Homo sapiens: one gene and its partners. The protein of the gene in region 1 purifies or fractionates together with the protein of each later gene. This does not show direct contact. Each region holds a gene or a part of one and is shown in the gene's direction. Other genes may lie near its edges.

Evidence for each region. The genes of interacting proteins can lie anywhere in the genome.
Region 2: the proteins of DDTL (region 1) and MDH1 purify together in Homo sapiens (affinity purification with mass spectrometry, with the first as the bait; one large-scale study listed by BioGRID). This does not show direct contact.
Region 3: the proteins of DDTL (region 1) and TBCA purify together in Homo sapiens (affinity purification with mass spectrometry, with the first as the bait; one large-scale study listed by BioGRID). This does not show direct contact.
Region 4: the proteins of DDTL (region 1) and MTPN purify together in Homo sapiens (affinity purification with mass spectrometry, with the first as the bait; one large-scale study listed by BioGRID). This does not show direct contact.

Annotation. Positions count from the first base shown.
Region 1 is NC_000022.11:23,964,320-23,970,431, forward strand, and holds the start of DDTL (D-dopachrome decarboxylase-like protein), read left to right. Parts: upstream 1-2,568; 5' UTR 2,569-2,595; coding exon 2,596-2,703; intron 2,704-3,066; coding exon 3,067-3,242; intron 3,243-3,666; coding exon of another isoform or gene 3,667-3,883; exon of another isoform or gene 3,884-5,576; intron 5,577-6,112. UniProt on the Homo sapiens protein: May have lyase activity.
Region 2 is NC_000002.12:63,594,467-63,599,318, forward strand, and holds part of MDH1 (malate dehydrogenase, cytoplasmic), read left to right. Parts: intron 1-21; coding exon 22-120; intron 121-956; coding exon 957-1,053; intron 1,054-2,932; coding exon 2,933-3,108; intron 3,109-4,703; coding exon 4,704-4,826; intron 4,827-4,852. UniProt on the Homo sapiens protein: Catalyzes the reduction of aromatic alpha-keto acids in the presence of NADH. Plays essential roles in the malate-aspartate shuttle and the tricarboxylic acid cycle, important in mitochondrial NADH supply for oxidative phosphorylation.
Region 3 is NC_000005.10:77,769,484-77,774,335, reverse strand, and holds part of TBCA (tubulin-specific chaperone A), read left to right. Parts: intron 1-4,852. UniProt on the Homo sapiens protein: Tubulin-folding protein; involved in the early step of the tubulin folding pathway.
Region 4 is NC_000007.14:135,946,004-135,950,855, reverse strand, and holds part of MTPN (myotrophin), read left to right. Parts: intron 1-173; coding exon 174-257; intron 258-4,852. UniProt on the Homo sapiens protein: Promotes dimerization of NF-kappa-B subunits and regulates NF-kappa-B transcription factor activity. Plays a role in the regulation of the growth of actin filaments.

The DNA of each region.
Region 1 (6,112 bases):
CAACACGTGGAGGCTGCAGTGCGGGAGGACTTCTTCCAGGAGGCCCTCCCAGCTGTCCTGAAGGCCAAGGACCTGCCTCCAGTAGAACCTGCTGTTAAAGAGAATCTGAAGACCTTAATGCAGCTTTTCTTGCTGTGAGTGCGTGTCCCACACTTGCTGAGCCACTGAGGGGATGCTGTGTTGGTAGAATAAAGACATGGAGCTGTCCGTCTCCTTGGTTGAAGAGAAGACATATCTGCAAAGGCTCTGGTCCACAGTTCCTCCAGATATCATGCCTGCATTCCTTTTGTCTCCTACCCCATTCCATTCTAGCTTCCATGTGACCTCTGAAAAGAGCTTGGGCAAACGCTTACTTGACCCTGACCTTCTGTGTGGAACTTTGTATGGTTCCTCACTGCCCAGAAGCTAAAGTACAAGTCATTGAACTTTGCATTCAAGGCCTTGCTCCCACTCCTCCAGGTGGCCCCTTCTGCCTGCACACTCCTAACCCCTCTCTGGGCTCCCACCTTGGCCTCTTGGCCTCCGCTCATGCTGTTCCCTCCTCATCTTCGCCTGGTGCCCTTCCTGGTCTTTTGGCATTTGGCACCCTGTCTCTTCTCCAGGGAGACTTCCCTGACCTCCCCAGCCCCAGTCCAGGTCAGGCGACCTCTCTGGGCTCCTCAGCCCCAGTGTTTCCTTGCGGGGGATACCCCCGGACTGAGCATGTATCATCGATGAGGGGTGACCTGGTGGAAAGATGTCTGAATCAGGATCAGCCTTGGTCTCCTCGGTCTCTCTCCTCACTGTGGGGCGATGTTGTGTTCCACAAGTGGGGTGCAGGGCTGGTTCATGAACCTCCTTGCAGGAAGGGAAGTCCCTGGTTATTTCCTGGCCCTCTCCCATGCCTCCTCATAACCTTGACCACAGTCTTCTCTACACCCCACTCCCGGACCACTGGCTTGTCCATGCCCCACACCTGGTCCCAGACTTGCCACCTGTCCCTGCCCTCTCCCCTTAGGACTGTCATATTTACCTGTCGTGTGTCTCAGACCTTCTGATATCTGAGTCATCTAATAAACAAACTGCTAATAGGACAAGATCATGACAGACAGAGACTCTGTCGGCCTTTCAGTGGAGGCTCCTTTAAGTATGCACACTTATAGAGAATTTTATACACGTAGTTGAAATTGTACATATAAACTTGCAAATTTTTTCTTTCTTTTTTGTGGGGGAGGGGGGAGCCTGGGTCTCACTCTGTCATCTAGGGTGGAGTGCAGTGGCACAGTCATAGCTCCCTGCAGCCTAGATCTCCTGCGCTCAAGCAATCCTCCTGCCTCAGCCGCCCAGGTAGCTAGGACTACAGGCACACACCACAGCACCCAGATTTCTTTCTTTTTTTTTTTTTTTTGTAGAAAATAAAGAAGAGAATCTTGCTATGTTGCCTAGCCTGATCTTTAACTCCTGGGCTCAAGCAATCCTCCCTTCTTAGCCTCCCAAAGTGCTGAGATTACAGGTGTGAGCCACATTGCTCGACCACAACTTCAATCATATTTGTAATGTACAATTCAAGTGATTTTGCCACACTGACCACACTCATGTTTAAGCCACGCCAACAGAGTTCCATGTTTTCTGATGTTTTTTCGAGATGGAGTCTCGCTCTGTCACCCAGGCTGGAGTGCAATGGCGCGATCTCGGCTCACTGCAACCTCCACCTCCCCGGTTCAAGCGATTCTCCTGCCTCAGCCTCCCGAGCAGCTGGGATTACAACGTCTGCCACCACGCCCGGCTAATTTTTGTATCTTTAGTAGAGACGGGGTTTCGTCATGTTGGCCAGGCTGGTCTCAAACTCCTGACCTCAGGTGATCCGCCCGTCTGGACCTCGCAAAGTGCTGGGATTACAGGCGTGAGCTACCGTGCCCGGCCTTTCCATGTTTTAAAGAACATATTTTGCCACCCCCTGGTGGACAGTGGCTCACCACCGGCACAAGAGGCTACACAGGCAGATGTCAATGGGGACCAGGCAGGGACAGGTATTGTCGTGAGCCTAGCCCTACCCGCGCCCCCGCGAGTAACCACATCTCCTGACTGCCCAAGCGCAGATTTCCATACTGAACATGAAATTGCCTGACTTCGAAATGGTGGCAAATCATTCAAAAAAACTTTAAGCTCCCGTTGTATTGGTTATTAGGGTCGAGCCTGGGGAAGACCCCTATAGGTGTGTGTGTGTCCTTGTGTGTCGGGGGTGTGGTGTTCAGACCTCTAATAGGGCTAGGAACCGGGCGACCACAGCGCGGAAGCTTGAGAGGGAAACCCACCTGGCGCCAGGCAGGAGGGTCGGGGGAGACAGGGTGGGTCCACTACCGGGTTAAAGACCTGTAGTGGGTGGGGCTACACGTAGGGCGGAGACGATGGGACTTCCGGAAATCAGCCGGCACACGTGACTTTTGTTTGCAGAAGCGGGAGGTACCCTAGGCAGCCAATCGGGGAGCGCCGAGTCTCTGTCCAGCCAATGAGAAGCCAGGTTGCTGTGGCGCCTCGCCCCTCCTCCCTGGTCCGCGAGCCTTGGGTACCCCCAGCTTTTCTTCCGCCAGAGCTGTTTCCGTTCCTCTGCCCGCCATGCCGTTCCTGGAGCTGGACACGAATTTGCCCGCCAACCGAGTGCCCGCGGGGCTGGAGAAACGACTCTGCGCCGCCGCTGCCTCCATCCTGGGCAAACCTGCGGACGTAAGCGTGGGCCGGGCAGCACGGGGCGAGGGGAGGTTGGTGGGCCAGGGGTCCGGCCCTGTCCCTGCTCCGCCTCCCCGACAGTGACCCCGAATCTTTTCCCCAGGGACCACTCCCCACTCCTTTCCTCACGCCAAGCTCTGACTTTCCGTGCTCCACGATCCCGCGGCTCCCCCTCCGCACGTCTTTCCCTTGTCGCCCTCCCCAGTCATGACCCGGGCGTGACCTTCAGGGACCGCGGCCCGTATCGGGATCCCTGCCCCGCGAACACTGCGCGTTTCGGCTTTCGCGCGCTCGGGTCCCGTCCCCAGAGGTAGCCCGGCCGGCTCCAACTTCGGGCAAAACTTTTCATGTCCCCCTCAGCGCGTGAACGTGACGGTACGGCCGGGCCTGGCCATGGCGCTGAGCGGGTCCACCGAGCCCTGCGCGCAGCTGTCCATCTCCTCCATCGGCGTAGTGGGCACCGCCGAGGACAACCGCAGCCACAGCGCCCACTTCTTTGAGTTTCTCACCAAGGAGCTAGCCCTGGGCCAGGACCGGTGCGTAGGGGTAGTAGGGGATCCATGTGGGACTGCCGCAGACTGGAGCCACTGATCCTGCCTCAGGGGGAAAAACCCATTTCTTGCCCTGCCCAGTAAGGACACATCAGGGTCTGGAGCTTTGGGGCCCCCTGACCCCTTAGGTTCCTGCTGTTAGGACCATCTTCAAAGTGCGAGCAGGATTGAATGAATTTCTGGCTCTGCTCCTCAGTGTGTAAGTCTGTGAACCGGGAAGGCTCTCTTTTAACACCCCCGGGGCAGTGCAAGGGTCATGTGGGATTGTCTGTGTGCTGTACCTGCCTTGGCACCTGACAGGGTAGGTACACGTGGCTGAAGTGTGATTTTCTAGAACTTTTCCAGGCTGGTCAGAAGGAATTCTGGGTATGTTCTGAAGTTACGTATTTTGGACCTGTGTCCCAGCCAGGTTCCAGGTGAAGTTCACGGGAGACTCACAGAGTAGTGAAAGACCATTGGCCTGGATGTCTAGACATCTGCTTTCTGGGTCCTGCATAGCTGGGGGACCCCAGACAAACTTGGAAATGAACCATCTCCAGTTGGCAACCTCCTCTTCTGTGAATACAGGGGAAAAGACCTCCCTCCCCCACAAGAAGCGTCTGCAACCCAAACCTGGCGTTCTGTGACCGAGTTAAAGTTTCCTCTTGGGTAAAAGATATTCTTGAGCCACATCCATGTCTAGGAGGAAGTAAGGGCATGAGAAGCTTGAAAGGACACTGTCCAGGCACGGTGGCTCATGCCTGTAATCCCAGCACTTTGGGAGACCAAGGCGGGAGGTTCATTTGACCCAGGAGTTGTAGACCAGTCTGGGTAACATAGTGAGATGCCATCCCCCAAAACAGTTTTAAAAATTAACCGGACATGGTGGTGTGCACATGTAGTCTCACTTAGTTGGCAGGCTGAAGTGGGAGGATGGTTTCAGCCCAGGAGGTTGAGGCTGCAGTGAGCTATGATTGCGCATTGCACTCCATCCTGTGTGACAGTGAGACCTTGGCTCACAAAAAAAGACCTTCTGAAATGGAGCCTTTGTTAGTCCATGAAGGTCGATGAGGAATGGCTGATCCTGCTGGGTCCTCCCTCAAGCTACAGAGGAATAATACAGTCAGCCCCCTGTATCACTGGGTTACGCATCTGTTGATTCAAACAACCATGGATTGAAATATTAGAGGAAAAAAATTGATAATTGCATCTATACTGAAAATACGTATAGACTTTATTCCTTGTCATTATTCCCTAAACAATACAACTATTTACATAGTACGTACATTATATTAGGTATTATAAGTAACCCAGAGATTATTTAAAGTATATGAGAGGATGTGTGTAGGTTACATGCAAATATTACACCATTTTATGTAAGGGACTTGAGCAAATGTAGATTCTGGTTTCCTCTGGGGATTCTAGAACAAATCTCCCACGGATACTCAGGGAAAACTGTTACTCTAACAACAAGTGTTATACACTTACCATGTGCTAGGTCCTCTACAGGTACTTTACACTCATGATCCCATTTGATCCTTACAATCCCTATCCACTCTCCCTTTGCTCAGACAAGACATGCTATCCCCATGAGGTAGATAATCTCCATTATGCCAATTTTATGATGAGAAGACTAAGGCTCTTCATACTCCCCCGCCCTCAGCCAGGCTGTCCCAAGCTGTGGCGCTCCTCACTGAAAACTGCTGTCACCTCTGAGAGGGGCATGTTGGCTTATGGCACAGACATTAGTGGTGGGGGGGCCACCCTGTGCCCAACCTTTGAGAAAACAGGTGTCTGAGGTACTGTGTCCTTAGGGAGTCTGCAATTAGGAGGAGGCAGATTGCCCCTCAGCCCACAGACTGACAGAGATGATGGAGTGTGCAGCACACACGATGAGGCTACTGTGTTGAGTGTCTGTCCTAGGTGGGTCATGCTGATGTGCAGCCACCATTCCACACCTGAGTGTCCCACTGCCCTGCTGGGGGTTGGGGAATGCTCATTACCGGGATGAGCACTTTTGCAAAATGGGCTGAGGTGGGAGGATCACTTAAGCCCAGGAATTCAAGACCACCCTGGGAAACAAAGTGCGACCCCATCTCTACAAAGTCATACAATTAGCCCAGCATGGTGGCATGAGCCTGTGATCCAAACTACATGGGAGGCTGAGGCAGAAGGTTTGTTTAGGCCCAGGAGGTCGAGGCTGCAATAATCTGAGTTTCCACCACTGCACTCACTCCATGCTGGCTGCCTTTGGATTGTTCCTAATTGGATGGTTTTGCTTTCAACAGACACTCCAATAAAGTACACGAAATAAAGAATAAAGTTAAACAGTCAGTCCCAGTGCTGTGTAGGTGGCAGTAAGTCTGGGAGAGCGACCTCGGCTGAACTAACTGTGGTGTGCATCATTGTTAAGCAGGGCCAGCAGGATCCTCATGTCACCTGGCAGGAGGAGGGACAGGGAAGGGTCCCTAGAAGTGACCTTGAGTTGCACTTAGTGCTCTTGGCAGAGGGAAGGGCTTGGGCTAGTGCTGGAGGCATGAAGATGGGGTGTGTTCAGGGCTCTCCAGCAGTCCAGGCATGGGAAGGGGACGCTGAGGGCCAAAGGCGGAGGTGACACTGGGAAGGGAACTAGCAAGGTGAGGACTGGCTTTTGGCCATGTGACTGAATTGCCTGTGTGGTGCGTGTGTATGTGTGCGAATGTCAGTGAACTGTGTGTGAGTGAATTGTGTGTTTATGTGTGGGTGTATATGTGTGTGATGTGAGTGAACTGTGTACATGGGTGTATACGTGAATTTTAGTGAATTGTGTGTAAATGTGAGCAGTGTGAATTTGAGTATGTGGGTGGATAAGTGAATTGTGATTTTGTTGGTGTGAA
Region 2 (4,852 bases), on another chromosome or scaffold:
AATGGGTCTTTTTCATTACAGTCTGAACCAATCAGAGTCCTTGTGACTGGAGCAGCTGGTCAAATTGCATATTCACTGCTGTACAGTATTGGAAATGGATCTGTCTTTGGTAAAGATCAGGTAGGAACAGGTGTCTATAAATCTTAAGTTATTAGAGTAAGAATATGGTTAATAAAAATCTGTATTTAGTTGTACACAAATTGTTAAACAGTGAAGGAATATGTAATCCCAGTAAATGTAATAGGCACATTGCTATAAATGGAAGCTACTAAGGTATTTATATGTACGCCTCCAGGCACTGAAAACACTTTGCAAATGAGAACTCTTCCATATATTGTACTCAGTTGACTTGGTGCAACCAGCAGGTGTCAGTCAATGGGAGATATCACTAATGACAGTAACTTACAGTCATGTGGGAGAGAGTTACTCAGTAAGCACTCCCTTGTTCATAAATGGCCTTTGGAACCAAAAGAGTAAGGAAATCTGCTTCCCCGCTGAAGCAGGCACTCCGACTTCCAGCAAGCCTGATTAATATACACTAAAATCCTTTTCTAAGGTATTCATTTATTCAGTTTCTTGACCCATGGATACTGAATTATTCTTTCATGTCAGATACTGTACTTAGCTTTCCATGAACTGAAATCAAATATACAGCTATTAACAATAAGAGCAAGCTATAGCATGTCACTCAGTTTAATGTTTTTTTCATATACTGTTAAAATTGAGTAGTGGTGATTCCTCTCACTGTGTCTGTTAGCAAACCAATGCTGGTTTTATAGCATCCTTCTTTCTGAAAGTGGCATAGTGCTAGATACCTGACCTCCTAAAATAATCATCATGACTAATTAATGGGAATTACATGCATGTACATACCAAATAAAAACTATGTGAAAAGACTTTCTTGTGTCTAAATGAAATAGCCTACACTAACAGATGCTGTCCTTGCTATTTGGTAGCCTATAATTCTTGTGCTGTTGGATATCACCCCCATGATGGGTGTCCTGGACGGTGTCCTAATGGAACTGCAAGACTGTGCCCTTCCCCTCCTGAAAGGTGGGTTGGGGAGTAGAGAAGGGATTTTATGGTATTTGATTTCTTACAAAATACAGGTTTTAGGTTTTTGTTAAAGGCTCTCAATTAGAAATTATTTCATAAGAGGATTTTTTTATTTTGAACTACCACTGTTTATTAACTACTTATGTATACCAAGGATAAATAAGGGTAAGAAATGAGCAACAATCAATGTCAGGTAAAGGACTATCCTTTTTTCCCCAATGTGTGTGTGTATATAATTTATTATACCAGTTAAGTGTAATATTGCACAAGGGTTATACACCTGAAATTGTCTACACACACACACATTATAGACAACGTAGGAATTGTCTACATTGTGTTGTTATGGAGTCTGCTTAACTGGTAATAGTAGCATCCTGTAATGGAAAACTTTCTCAGTTTTGAAGGATGTCCTTCATAGCTATACATTGCTCTGGAAGTTGGTTGGTTCCTCTTACACGGTCCCCATCCCATCTACCAATCATCAGGTTGAGACATAGTGTAAATTGTCCTTACCATATGCTCTATAGTTTGAAAAAACCCAGAAGAGCTCAGCTAAGGGCCTTTGCAAATCATTGAACTATAACACAGATATAATAAGGAAGCCTTAAATTTGATCGAAAAGTTTATTAAAATATTCTAAATTAATTTAAATATTTTTCTTCAGCTATTTCTTCATCATAGTCTTTCTTTTGGTAAGGATTAATTAATGATACTCTCCTAGAAGTTTGCACAAAGCAAAATAATACATACCTTCCAAGAAAAACTTTCCTTAAAATTCTTCATCTGTTGAATAAACATTTGCTAGAAGGGATACTCTGCCATCTAAGTCTTTTGGTTGCAAAGTTCTGTGGAAGAATACATGACTGCCCACACTATTCTGTTGGTTCCCTTTTCTCACCCACAGCTCTTTCCAAATCAGCTTTGCTGCTTTTTCCCATTTGTATTCCTTTCTCTGCTGAGTTCCCTGTGCTTTTTCTCTAAAGGGCCCAGATTGCTGTTGGTTTGTCCTCTGCCAGATATGAATATGACAGGGAAGGGAAAGTTCAGCAAATAAGGACATGTGACTGGGAAAGAGGAAGATAATTTTTTTTTCTCCAACTGGTGTTCCTGTCTATGCCCATTTTCAGACTTATGGCAGCCTTGACTATGATGCAACTAGCCAATTTTCCAGTGAAAATGCTGAATGTTGGTCATAGCTTTTTTAATACAATCAACAAAGAAGTGCGATGACTTATGTTCTTTAGTCAAAAAGCAAGTGATGTTTGCTTATTGTACTAGCACTGGAGCATAGTGGTTGAACTCTGGACCAACCTAGGCTGGAATTACAGCTCCATTATCTTTTGATGGTGGCGAGTTAATCTCTTTAAACCTCAGTGTCTCCATCTATAAAATCAGAAGATTAAATTTGATAGTAATATAAATCTCTTAGCATTATCCTGGCACAAAACTCCTCAATAAACATTTATTATTTTTAAATTTGTGATTGGTGTCTTAGACCTTAAAGTAATTGTAATTTAAAGGTTAGGTGAATTAGTTGCTCTTTTGTGTTGTGTGGTAATTAGTGTGAATAACAAGTGTCACTTCAAAAGTCATCATTATACCTTGCATCATATATGATTATAAAAGATAAAAGCTATGGAGTTTTGACATTTAAGTAATTATTGAAACAGGAAAAGCAAAATAAATCTATTGACATTTCTAATGTTATGATTGTTAAATTAATATATTATCTTTCTCAGGCTCCTGAAATGTATATCAGTGTGATATGTAAACACTTGCAACAAGTGAAAGAATTAATGGGTAGATTCAATATGAAAAAGAAAACTTCAAACTTTGATGTTTAAGTAGCTCTGCGTATTTATTGCCATGTCCACAGATGTCATCGCAACAGATAAAGAAGACGTTGCCTTCAAAGACCTGGATGTGGCCATTCTTGTGGGCTCCATGCCAAGAAGGGAAGGCATGGAGAGAAAAGATTTACTGAAAGCAAATGTGAAAATCTTCAAATCCCAGGGTGCAGCCTTAGATAAATACGCCAAGAAGTCAGTTAAGGTGACCAATGCTGTATTTTATGGGATTTTTCATTATTAGCATTTGAAACTTATGCTTTTAGCATTTAAGCAAAACCAAAATTATTTGCCCTTTTTTCTAGTTCTGTACAATCATCAGTAAATACGGCTCTAGAGTTTTGCTTGATAAGCTCTCCCTTTCTGGGTTTTTTCTTACAGTATAGAAATCTATATTCAGAGTGCTCAAAAATATTTTTCCTATTAGTATAACGTGAAAATTTAGTATTAGTTCTTAAACATATAGAGAAGGCACAGGATCTTCTGGTGCATTTTTGCTGCGTGGGAATATTTATTTAGACATTTAAATTTGTGTGTGATTGTGAAAGGAGATAGCTAGCTGTAAGGTAAGTTTATTCTCAGGAATAGAAGATAGTGGTTTCTGAATGCTCAGATTTTCTTAATGCAGAGGAATTTTAATATGCTTGTCTCTTGAAGAATTGAGTCAGTATGACTTATAGTTCTCTCTTTGTGTTCAAACTATTTACTTTAGATTCTAATATGTCTTAATATTACAGTAAGCCTTTTTTATTTTTTATTAATTTTTTTAATTTTTTTGAGACGGAGTCTTGCTCTGTCACCCAGGCTGGAGTGCAGTGGTGCAATCTTGGCTCACTGCAACCTCTGCCTCCCGGGTTCAAGCGATTCTCCTGTCTCAGCCTCGTGAGTAGATGGGACTACCGTTGCACGCCACCACACCCAGCTAATTTTTGTATTTTTAGTAGAGACGGGATTTCACCATGTTGGCCAGGCTGGTCTCGAACTCCTGACCTCAGGTGATCCACCTGTCTTGGCCTCCCAAAGTGCTGGGATTACAGGTGTGAGCCACCACGCCCAGCCAAACCTTCTTTTATTAGTGAACTATCAATTAACTAGAACTTAATTGTCACCCAGCAAATAGGCTTGCCGGTTAAAGGTTTAACTGATTTCCATATACTTTCCTATCTTTCAAAAAAAGGTGAAAGAAAATTTTTTAAGATTTTTTAAGTTGCCCATTATAATGTTCTATCAATAACATTTCATAGATATCTGCATTTTTTGCTTTCTGTGCACTTCATTTTAAATAGTTAACTTATTTTCTGTCATCACAGAAAATAGTATAAATGAGTTTAATAGAAATCCACAGGTGCCAGTAAAAGATTAGAAGATTGTTCAGACTGCTAAATTGCAGGCTATTTGGAGGTAAAGTACTCCTTGCACAGTAATTCCACTTCTTCAAAGCGTCCTTGTTCGTGAGAAATATTTGCCAGCACTGCACTACTTAGAGACAATGAAGTATCTTGTCTACAGCTTGTCAAAAGAGGTACCAAAAAAAAAAAAAAAAAAGATATATGGGAGTCAGTCTCTGTAATATGGTTGTAACTTTTCTATAAATCTGATATTATTTCAAAATTTTTTATTACCATTTTATAAAAGATTTTTATAACTTAAAATGCATTTTCCTATGCTATATTGTATTTGGTGTTTCCCAAGCCTCCCCTGTACAAAGGCTACCTGTTAGACATTTTCAGTCAAATTTTAACATAGATTAGTTAGTAACTATATAGTCTGTAACTCTTCAGTGCCTTCCATTCCTCCTAGGTTATTGTTGTGGGTAATCCAGCCAATACCAACTGCCTGACTGCTTCCAAGTCAGCTCCATCCATCCCCAAGGAGAACTTCAGTTGCTTGACTCGTTTGGATCACAACCGAGCTAAAGCTCAAGTAAGAAAAATATATTTTAAATCTTG
Region 3 (4,852 bases), on another chromosome or scaffold:
ACAGGGAAGAGGGTTCTCTACAGAATATAGATTTTCCCCTTAAGAGACATCTTTGCAGGGCCAATTCAAAATATGTAAAGAAATATATTTTAGAGTAAAATGCTTTTATTTCTTTCAGATCCCGCTATCTGTCCTGTGATGCCATACTAGAGTAAAGCTGGAATTTGGTGTCTTATTGTTACAAAAAGCCTTAAGATCTGTTTTAATGTTAATGCTGCTCAATTGTTCCTGAGTTCCAAAGGGAGGAATGTGTAATGAGACATGTCTGACCCCCTCTTCCCATCATGGCCTGAATTACTTTAGAATGCCCTTAGTTGAGAGGAGGGGTCCATTCAGACGGTTTTGGAGCTTAGAATTTTGTTTTTAGTTTGCATTCCTGAGTGCTGGTAGACCCTTCAGTGTTCATTAGAACTTTATTGTTCAGACCCAAGAAGAGCAAACTTTTTGATGAAGTATTACAAGAGAAAAGATAAACAGCCTTCTGAAGAAGCAAGTTATTTTGTTGTAGCAATGTCTACTAAAGAAACCAACTGGCTTCTTCCTGTTCGCCCACCTTTCCTTTGTTTATTGATATTTCCACCAGAGGAAGGACCAGGCAAAAGGGAGAATAAATTCACTTTTTAAGATAATGCTTCTGAGTTTTAGCACAGCATCCCACTTCCCGGGAAGCTTTATTGCCAAGGCAATAAGGAGACCATGTGAGTAGGAGTTAAATGCACAGCCATTTGTGAAGTGAGACTGCTTGGGTTCAGATCTTGATTCTGCCCTTTATTCTATGTTGTGGAATATATTACATTGTGCTGTGCCTCTTTTACCTTATTTGTAAAATAGAGCAAGCACCCAACTCAAGCAGTTGTTGCAAGAACTGCCTGCTATGCTGTTTAATACAGTATGTGGCAAATAGCAAGTGGGTAGTAAATGTTAATAATACTGTTTGGATTCTCATTTTACATATGAGAAACTGAGGTTTAATGAAGTTAAAAAAAGAAAAAAAAAACTTGTCTAAAGTCACACTACTAGTTAGTGGCAATGCAAGGAAAAGGACCAAGGTTTCAAATCTACAACTTTCTCCTTTAAGCTACAGTGCTCCCGTAAAGAGTATTTTTAAAATTGGTAATAGGAAGGGAATTGAGATGTATATTTGAAAATATAAATAATCCATCCTGTCCCTCAGCTCAGAGTTCTTTTTACCAGACTTTTACCAGACTGGTTCACTTTTACCAGACTTGCTTGGGTTATGTCATTTTAGTCAGTATATTTGGCAGAACTATCAGGGTGTGTTGCAGAGTGCTGTAGAATGAAAGTCATGAGAAATGACTTCTAATGGTAGTTTCCCATTCATTTACTTATATGACCTTGACATTTCTCATTCCAGTGATCTCTACTAGTTTATAAAATTACTTAGTTCAAGTAGTTATATGCTGACAATACATATTCTAGAGAAAATACTCATTGAGATTATTATAAACTAAGTTTTTGACTTTTCAGAAGTTTTCAATGCTTATGTAAACTGCTTAGAAATAAATTTATCATTTTATGAAACTTGGTGATAGTTTACTATTATCTCAAATTGCTTATAAATTAATGGAAGTGTCTCCCATACATTTTAAAATGACTTTTCTGTTGACATTTTGGGGTATAGCTTCCCACTTATGTATTAAAATGCAATTAAAGAAAAACCCCTAAACTTTCTGTTTTAGCTGCTTGTTACTCACATTTTGCCTTGGTATATCACCATCTAACTCCATAAATATTGTCCCCTATTGTCTCTTGTTATTTTTCACCTGAAAATTATTTTGCTATGACTCTTTCCATCTTCTACCTTAGTATCCTATTTTTATTTTATTATTATTTATTTTTATTTTACTTTAAGTTCTGGGATACATGTGCTGAACGTGCAGTTTTGTTATATAGGTACACATGTGCCATGGTGATATGCTGCACCTGTCGACCCGTCATCTAGGTTTTAAACCCTGCAACCTATTTTTAAAAATCTATATTTTACCTCAGCAAAGTAAAAAATAGATGAGGCAGCAATGGTAACATATTACTAATTGTTGGGGCTGAATGATCATGGGGCTTCATTATATTTTTCTGTACATAAGTTGAACATTTTTCATGATAAAAAGGGTCTAAAAGATATGCTTTTTTCCTCCTCTCTCCAAATTTAGTTTCAAAGATACCTTAATTCATGATTCAGACATGTTCTTGCTTTTGTGAAAGGGATTCTATTCTTTTCTTTTTTTTTTTTTAATCAATGGTTTAAAAACCTATCCTCGACACTATTTTAAATCTGTTCTTGACACTCTTTTTCTGGTTAGACGTTCATTTTCCATAGCCTCATTTATCTTCGGAAGTCACAACCTTTATTTGGAAGAAGAGGTTTAAAGTCATTATTCATGCCCCAAATCCTTCAATTTTCTCTCTAGAAATTGAGAGCAACTAGAAATTATATTCTAGGTATTTGTCCTAGAGTTCAGTTTGGGTAGGCTATACTAGAAAGGGTGGATTAATTTAGTTTCTGATTAGACCTGGTGGAACACTTCAGGTGACTCAGAAGTTCCTGATAGTGGGTCTGAGGAAGAAATGTGGACAGGCAGGTTGAATGTTAGGGGAATATGGAAACAGGCAATAAGTAGATGATGGTATTTGGCGTGTAGGAGATCCAGCCATGCGTGCAAGACGGCCATTTCAGCATGTTGGCAAAATGGCAGAGTTGACCTAATGGATAGCAGCCCACATTATAAAGTAGAAACAAGTTTCAGGGCCAGTATTTTTAGGCCCTGGGAAAATAGGCCGGAGGTTTACGGTGAGTGTCTTGTTCCTAGAGAAACTTTGTTACCTTGTACAGTAAATGGCAAAGCATCTGATTTCTGGGAAGTGAGTTTCAAGAGAGAGAGGTTAGATTACTAGGAATAAAGAAAGAGTCTAGATACTAGGAATGGCTTAGAAGGTGAGAGTTGGACAGAATGAGGCTGAATTGGTGCTAAGCCTCTGACTCTGAGGGCTCCTTAAATATCTTCCAGCAACAAGATTTTAATAGTATTGTTGTTATTTTTAGTTGACACATACATATTTACAGGGTACCCTGTGATATTTTGTTACATGTATACTTTTTTTTTTTTCCTGAGGACTAATTCTTGCTGTGAAACTAGAGAAATGTATGTAACAGAGGCTAGATGGGTTATTATATTATTTTTATTTTTATTTTTTCAGAGTCAGAGTCTCGCTGTGTCACCCAGGCTGGAGTGGACTGGTGTGATCTCGGCTCACTGCAGCTGCTGCCTCCTGGGTTCATCCCTGCCTCAGCCTCCTGAGTAGCTGGGATTACAGGTGTCCGCCACCATGGCTGGCTAATTTTTGTATTTTTTAGTAGAGACAGGGTTTTGCCTGGCTGATCTTGAACTCCTGACCTCAGGTGATCCACCTGCCGTGGCCTCCCAAAGTGCTGGAATTATAGGCGTGAGCCACTATGCCTGGCCCTAGGTGGGTTATTATACTAAGTTTCTTTGAGCAGCAGCCTTTGTTCACATGTGACTCACTGGTAGTGGGTATTAGTTGGCAGGTTTGGGTGTAGCTGGCTCTTTGTTTTTTTTCTTTTTTTTTTAAGATTTGGATCTATGTTTCCAGCAGATTGCTAGACCTATTGATATCTGTGACAGGGTCACAACTAATCTGGCAGCTCTAGCAGAGTTACCAAATAATACTCAGTTTTTTCCCCCAGCACAGAACTGTTGAACACTCTGTTTTTTTTTTGGAGCGGGGGAGGATATCTAGGTGGCATCAATTATCACAGTTTGCCTGAGACTGAGGGGTTTCCCAGGATGTGGAACACTTCACTGCTAAAACTGGGAAAGTCCCAGGCAAACTGGAATGATTGGTCACCTCTTCTGTAACTAGCTAACATAGCTCTGTTTTATGTGTTCTGTGATTTATTTGGAGGCTATTTACAGATAGTACAACTGTGAGTTGTATGTTGTACCTTAATTTAAAACTTAAGTGCATGGTGTAAATATGAATCCTTGACAGAGTAGCTTTTGTTCTGTATTTAAATTATTAATGATTTAGAAAATAATTTTCACTAAAGTAGGAGAAAATGCAGAATTGATATTTTCTAAATGTGGTATTTCAGCTAAGTGACTTATCTGCACCAAAAAAGTTTCCAAGTGGGATTTGTGTTCATAAAAAAGTTTGTTTTTTATTAGACTTGTGATAAATTCAAGAAATTCTTCTGCAAGTAAAAAACACTCACAATCATTTAACATAAAAGGTTATTTAACTTTAAAGCCAGCTTTCAATAAAGCCTGTTAAACTAGTTCACTGGTGAGTGAATGAATTGATTAAAAATACTTTCTTAAATATATCTTTTTATAACCATTTTGGATTGGTAATGGCTTAAAATCCAATGTGAACAAAGAATGTTAGGGCATTGGAAATAGCACTGACATTGGCCCATAGTTTTCCTCTGATTAAATGAAAGTGACACCAGTAGATTAGAATGAGACTAGGACAATTCACACTGCAATTTTGTTAGTTTAACTTTAACAGTCTTTTAACACTCTTGTTTAAATGTAGCTGACATACCATAATTACAAATCTACAAGCCTTGATTATAGAATTTTACATCATGAGCCTGTGGGGAAATTGTATTGATTTTTTTTTTTTTAATAAAGCAAGCATTGTTCCCAAACTGTGGCATCTTCCGAAGTTTGTTTATATCTACATCCTATATACAACTGTGTATGGTGTATATGCTATGTATAGCAGGCATGAAGACAACATAAAAGGTATGTAAAATCTCCACTATTAGTTCAATATATATTATACTGATATAAAAAGTGAAGAATGCAAA
Region 4 (4,852 bases), on another chromosome or scaffold:
GGCTTGGGTCTCTGGTAGCTTTAAGAGACTAGACACTTGACTCTGTGGATTGATTGATTGATTGATTTTCTAGAAAGGCAAATAGGTAAATCTAGAAAGAGTTTTCTAGTTAAAACTAGAAAGTAGGAAGAAATGAAAAACAGATAAAGTTATCTCTGTTTATTATTTCATAGGCTCCAGATAAACATCATATTACTCCTCTTCTGTCTGCTGTCTATGAGGGTCATGTTTCCTGTGTGAAATTGCTTCTGTCAAAGGTGAGGTCAATTGCTAATAGTATTGCTTTTTCTATTACTGTGTTTAAGCCAAGTATTTGATTGTTAATTTATTTGAATTTTGTGTGGCAGCAGGGACAGAAAACTGGAAGCAATATACAAAATTGAAGTGTAGTGTTACTCAAAATAGCTGGCCCATAAACTGTTACCAGTTTGTGGTAGGTAAGGAGCTTGGGTGAATATAAATCAGCAGTCTTCTTTGTCAAGAAAATATTTTACACACACACACACAGAAACCAGCTTGAAATAACCATTGTACTTGATGATATAGAAGAATGTCATTTTGGACAGTAACACTTTGTGGACTGGCACCAGGTTCATACACCATGCTTTGAGTAGCACTGGTTTGAAATGTATATGTTTCATTTTCTGGAATACATACCGAGCAAAATGGTTAGAGGTAGTTTGCTGTTAAGTAAGGACTCTCCAAGTTATCTGGTTTCTTGATATGCTTGAGATAGTGGTAAATTTGGAGTTTTCCTACCTTTTTTGTCTTTGCTATTATAAGCCCTTAGATGGAGTTCAAAATCCAGACTCAGAAATTAACCATTTAGTTGCCGCCATTCTAGCTGTATTAGATGGATCCTACAGATGTTGGAAAGCAAGAAATCTTCAGAAAATATTACCAGTTACAGTATTATCACTAGTATTTAATCCCAGCCTTGTCATTTTATGACCATACTCTGGAAAGTGTTGTTTATAATATTTCATTTGGGATCTTAAGCCCTACTAAAAGAAGCAAGAGAAAAACAGAAATGAGTAGATGTATATAAAGCATTTTGCCACAGTGCCTGATACATAGTAAGCACTCAATAAGTAGTAGCTTTTATTATAACTAAGGCTGAAGAGGATTTTAATGCTTTGTAGTGTCAGCTTCAGTAAGATACGAAGAAAATTGGGAAAGAAGATAGCACATTTATCTCTTAACACTTTATTGACAACTTTGTAAAGATATGGTTCTAAAAGCAGTTAATTTGGGTCCTCTAAATAGAGCTAGGGTTTTTTCTATCCATAGCTTCATGTTAACCACAATTACTGGATTTCTTTAAATATGTTTGTTGTTGTTTGGGTTTGGGTTATATATCAAGAGCAATTTTTATACCTTACTGATAAGAATGATGCATTTGTCCAAAAGCCAAAATAAATGGAAATATTACTCTTTGCCGCTAGTGGATCCAGCATCTGTGATAGGGTGTGCTCGCAAAGATTTCCAGTCACTGTCTTTCTCTTTACTGTTCATCCCTCCCCAAGATCTGCGAAAGGATTACAAAGTACCTTTGAATACTGCTAGATAATTTCATCCCTGGGAAATATTTTTGCTTACTGTATCAAAAACAGATTTGCTGTTTATGAAAGATTTATATAATTTCAATATTGTATTAGTTAGGACTCTGTCTTGCAAGTAACTGAACCCAGCTCAGACAGGCTTAAACAGTAAAGAGATCTTATTAATTTATATAACTGTACAGTTGAGGCACAGCTTGACCCTGGATTTAAGACACATGACCATGATCTGATTTTTTTATTTTTATTTTTGGCCTGTCCCAGGTCTCTTCCTCAGCATTGGCTTTATTTCCATGGCTTCAGCCTATCTGCTAGCTCTCAAAAGAAATGGAGGACTCCCTCCTTACCCTTCGTTCCCGCCTTTTCCCTGACCTTTTTTTTACCCAGCCAAGGGTTTTGTTCTCTGAAAATAAAAACCTCCATGGGATCATTTTTTGCTTAGGTCCCTTGTCATTTACTAAATGAGCTGCCCTAAATGTACTCTTTCCTTCTAACCATATCTCAAACTGTAGATCAGAACAATTTTTCTTTGTGTTAGACCTCTCTGTCCTCCTAGGAAAAACAAAACAGGATATATTTTTTATTCTATAGAGAACCCAAACCATTGTTCTGTACTCCTTATTCCCAAAACATGAGGCTTCAGGTCATTGAGACCTTGTGGTTGTAAGTTTCCGTTGTTAAAGAGTTGAAAACATTAAATGAGTTCCTGAAAAGTTGGCTTGATTTGCATGTACATTAGGCCCTAAGATGTCATCCCAGAAGGTTCTCTGTGTGTGTACTGTGTTGCTAAATTATTGATTGTGAGTTGTCTTACTTTTAACTAGTTTGTTTTTTCTTTTGCTTATGCCCATTTTGTTCTTTTGTGTCTGAACCTTGACTTTTTTTAGCCAAATAAGTGACATTTGGAGATAGCTATGTTGGTAGCAGACCGTTTGTAACCATGTAGAGCTGTTGTTTTATATGAAAGAGATTTTCTTCTTTTTGAAATCAGCATAGTACATTTTAGTTCTGCTTTTTCAAAATTAATTACTTTGATTTTATTATTGCATAAGCTTCTTTAATGGATACCCTGTAGTTTTGTTAGGCAGATTTTTTTTGAAAATTGATTATACTCTTTCAAAAATTCTTAGTTGCTAAAATAGAGTTGTTCCAGTGCATCTTTTAAAAGTTATAATCAGTGTTTATATTAAGTCTAATTTGTTCTGCCTTTTATCAAAAGTAGAATTCTTATGGATTATTATGAATTCACTTGAAAAGACTTGGTTTAAGAACTTTCCAGATTCATTGACATTTCCAATACATTATCCAGTTGATTTATCCTTAGCATACGAAAAAAGGCAAAATAATAAACAGGGATTTAGAAACTCAGTATGATCACAACTAATAGGGGAGAAATCAGAAAAACAAACATGATTGCTAGAATATTTGAAATCAAACTTTATATGATATGCTGTATCATTTATAATTTATTATAAACCCAAATACTTAGGTATTATTATCTCTCTTTTATGGATAAGGAAACCATTTATCTCGGGGTGGTCTAACTGCTTGAAAGTCAAATACAATGTAATGGAATCAAGATTTGTTCCAAGATGTAGGATTCAGCAGCCTGTGTTCTTACTATTACTTGAAATTGCCTTTCAGAAGTACTGTCAGGTCAGTTAATGAGAAATGGAACATGTACATATCTGCAGGTAAAAAGACTTGTGGCCTCATTTTTAATTGGCAAGCTGGTAAATGAGAAAAATGTAGAGATCAACAGATGAGAGGCTTCCATTTCAAAGTTTAGGTGTGAGCACATTCTGTGGTGTTCTCTTTTTGCCCCCAGTGACAGAAAAGATGTTTTTAAAGTGAGTTGATCAGTATCTGCTTTGGACCAGAAGAATTGGATCCATCAAACAAGAAATGATAAGGAAACCTTGAAAGACAGAAAACAAGCAGGGTAGGGCCAAAGAAGAAATTCCCAAATAAGAGCAAGAGAGTATTGTTGCAAAAGGCAAGAGCTGATCCAAGGCCACGCCCAGAGGTGCCTAGTACCCCCAAGCAACAAATGGAGTGACAAGTTGGATGCACTTCAGGAAGAAGCAAATTAAACCCAAAAGGAAAGACTGAGATGCAAGAAGGGGAATGATAAGTAAGAAGTTAGTGTGAATTAGTATGTGAATAACTCTAAACAAATATTTAACACTGAAGTTTTTAAAAAATAAGCTAGAACCAAATAAGGTAAATAATATGAGATGATCAAAGCTTCTGGTATTTTCACCAAATCCAGAGTACCTGAGAAACATGGTAAAACTAGCAAGAAGAAACAAGGGAAAGGAGGCAGATAATTAATGCAGGCTCAAGAAGCATCCTTGAAGAGGTAGCAGCAGCAGAGGAGTGAGAGTGTGAAGAAGCTGATGTGAGTGTATGAGACAGACACTCATAATAGAAAAGTAGCAACTGACCAGTACAGCAGTCTGTGGAGAGGCCAAGCCCAATGCCTGTTTTTATCAAAGCAATAATAGGCAGCCTGTATAATCATGTGTCATTTAGAATTATAATTATCTCAGTGAAATAAGGTTCCCCTTTATTTGCCCTAAAAAATCTTAACCAGGAAATTTTTGGAATGAAAAGGATATTTAAAAGGTGGTATTAAAAAGTCCTTCAGTTCAAAAGTTGGCAAACTTTTTCCTAGGCATACCCTTTTTGCGAAGGCATGCCTTTGCAAACTACATGGTCACTGATGTAACATTGCCATAGACAATACATAAACGGATGGGCATGGCTGCATCCCAGTAAAACTTCATATACAAAAACAAATATCCAGGCCATGTTTGCCAACCCCTGCTCTAGCTCATAAATAGTTTGGAATTTATAAGGCACATCGTTTTAAAACCCTAACCCTCAGTGGTAAGATGATGCTTCCCTAAGTGCTACAAGGTGAGTGTGTATCCTTCTGGATGCTTTTATTAGACTATGCTAGCACTTATTTTTGAAAAGATTTTTTAATGTAGCCAAACAAGAGTTTATAGGACACTTATCTGGGATATTCACTGTTCATTACTAAACTGGTCTTTCTGATTAAAATCTTAAACACTTGAATAATAGCAAGGTTGCACAAACACATTAGAAGGGGGCTAAACATGAAATCATATTCTTGAATAGTATTAGCTGATGGACTTTCCTAAGTTCAGAGTTCATTTACAGTAGTCCCCCTTTTCTGCAGTTACCCATGGTCATGGTGAGTACATTACTAAGATACTTTGTGAGAGAGACACCACATTACCATAACTTTTATTACAGTTAACTTT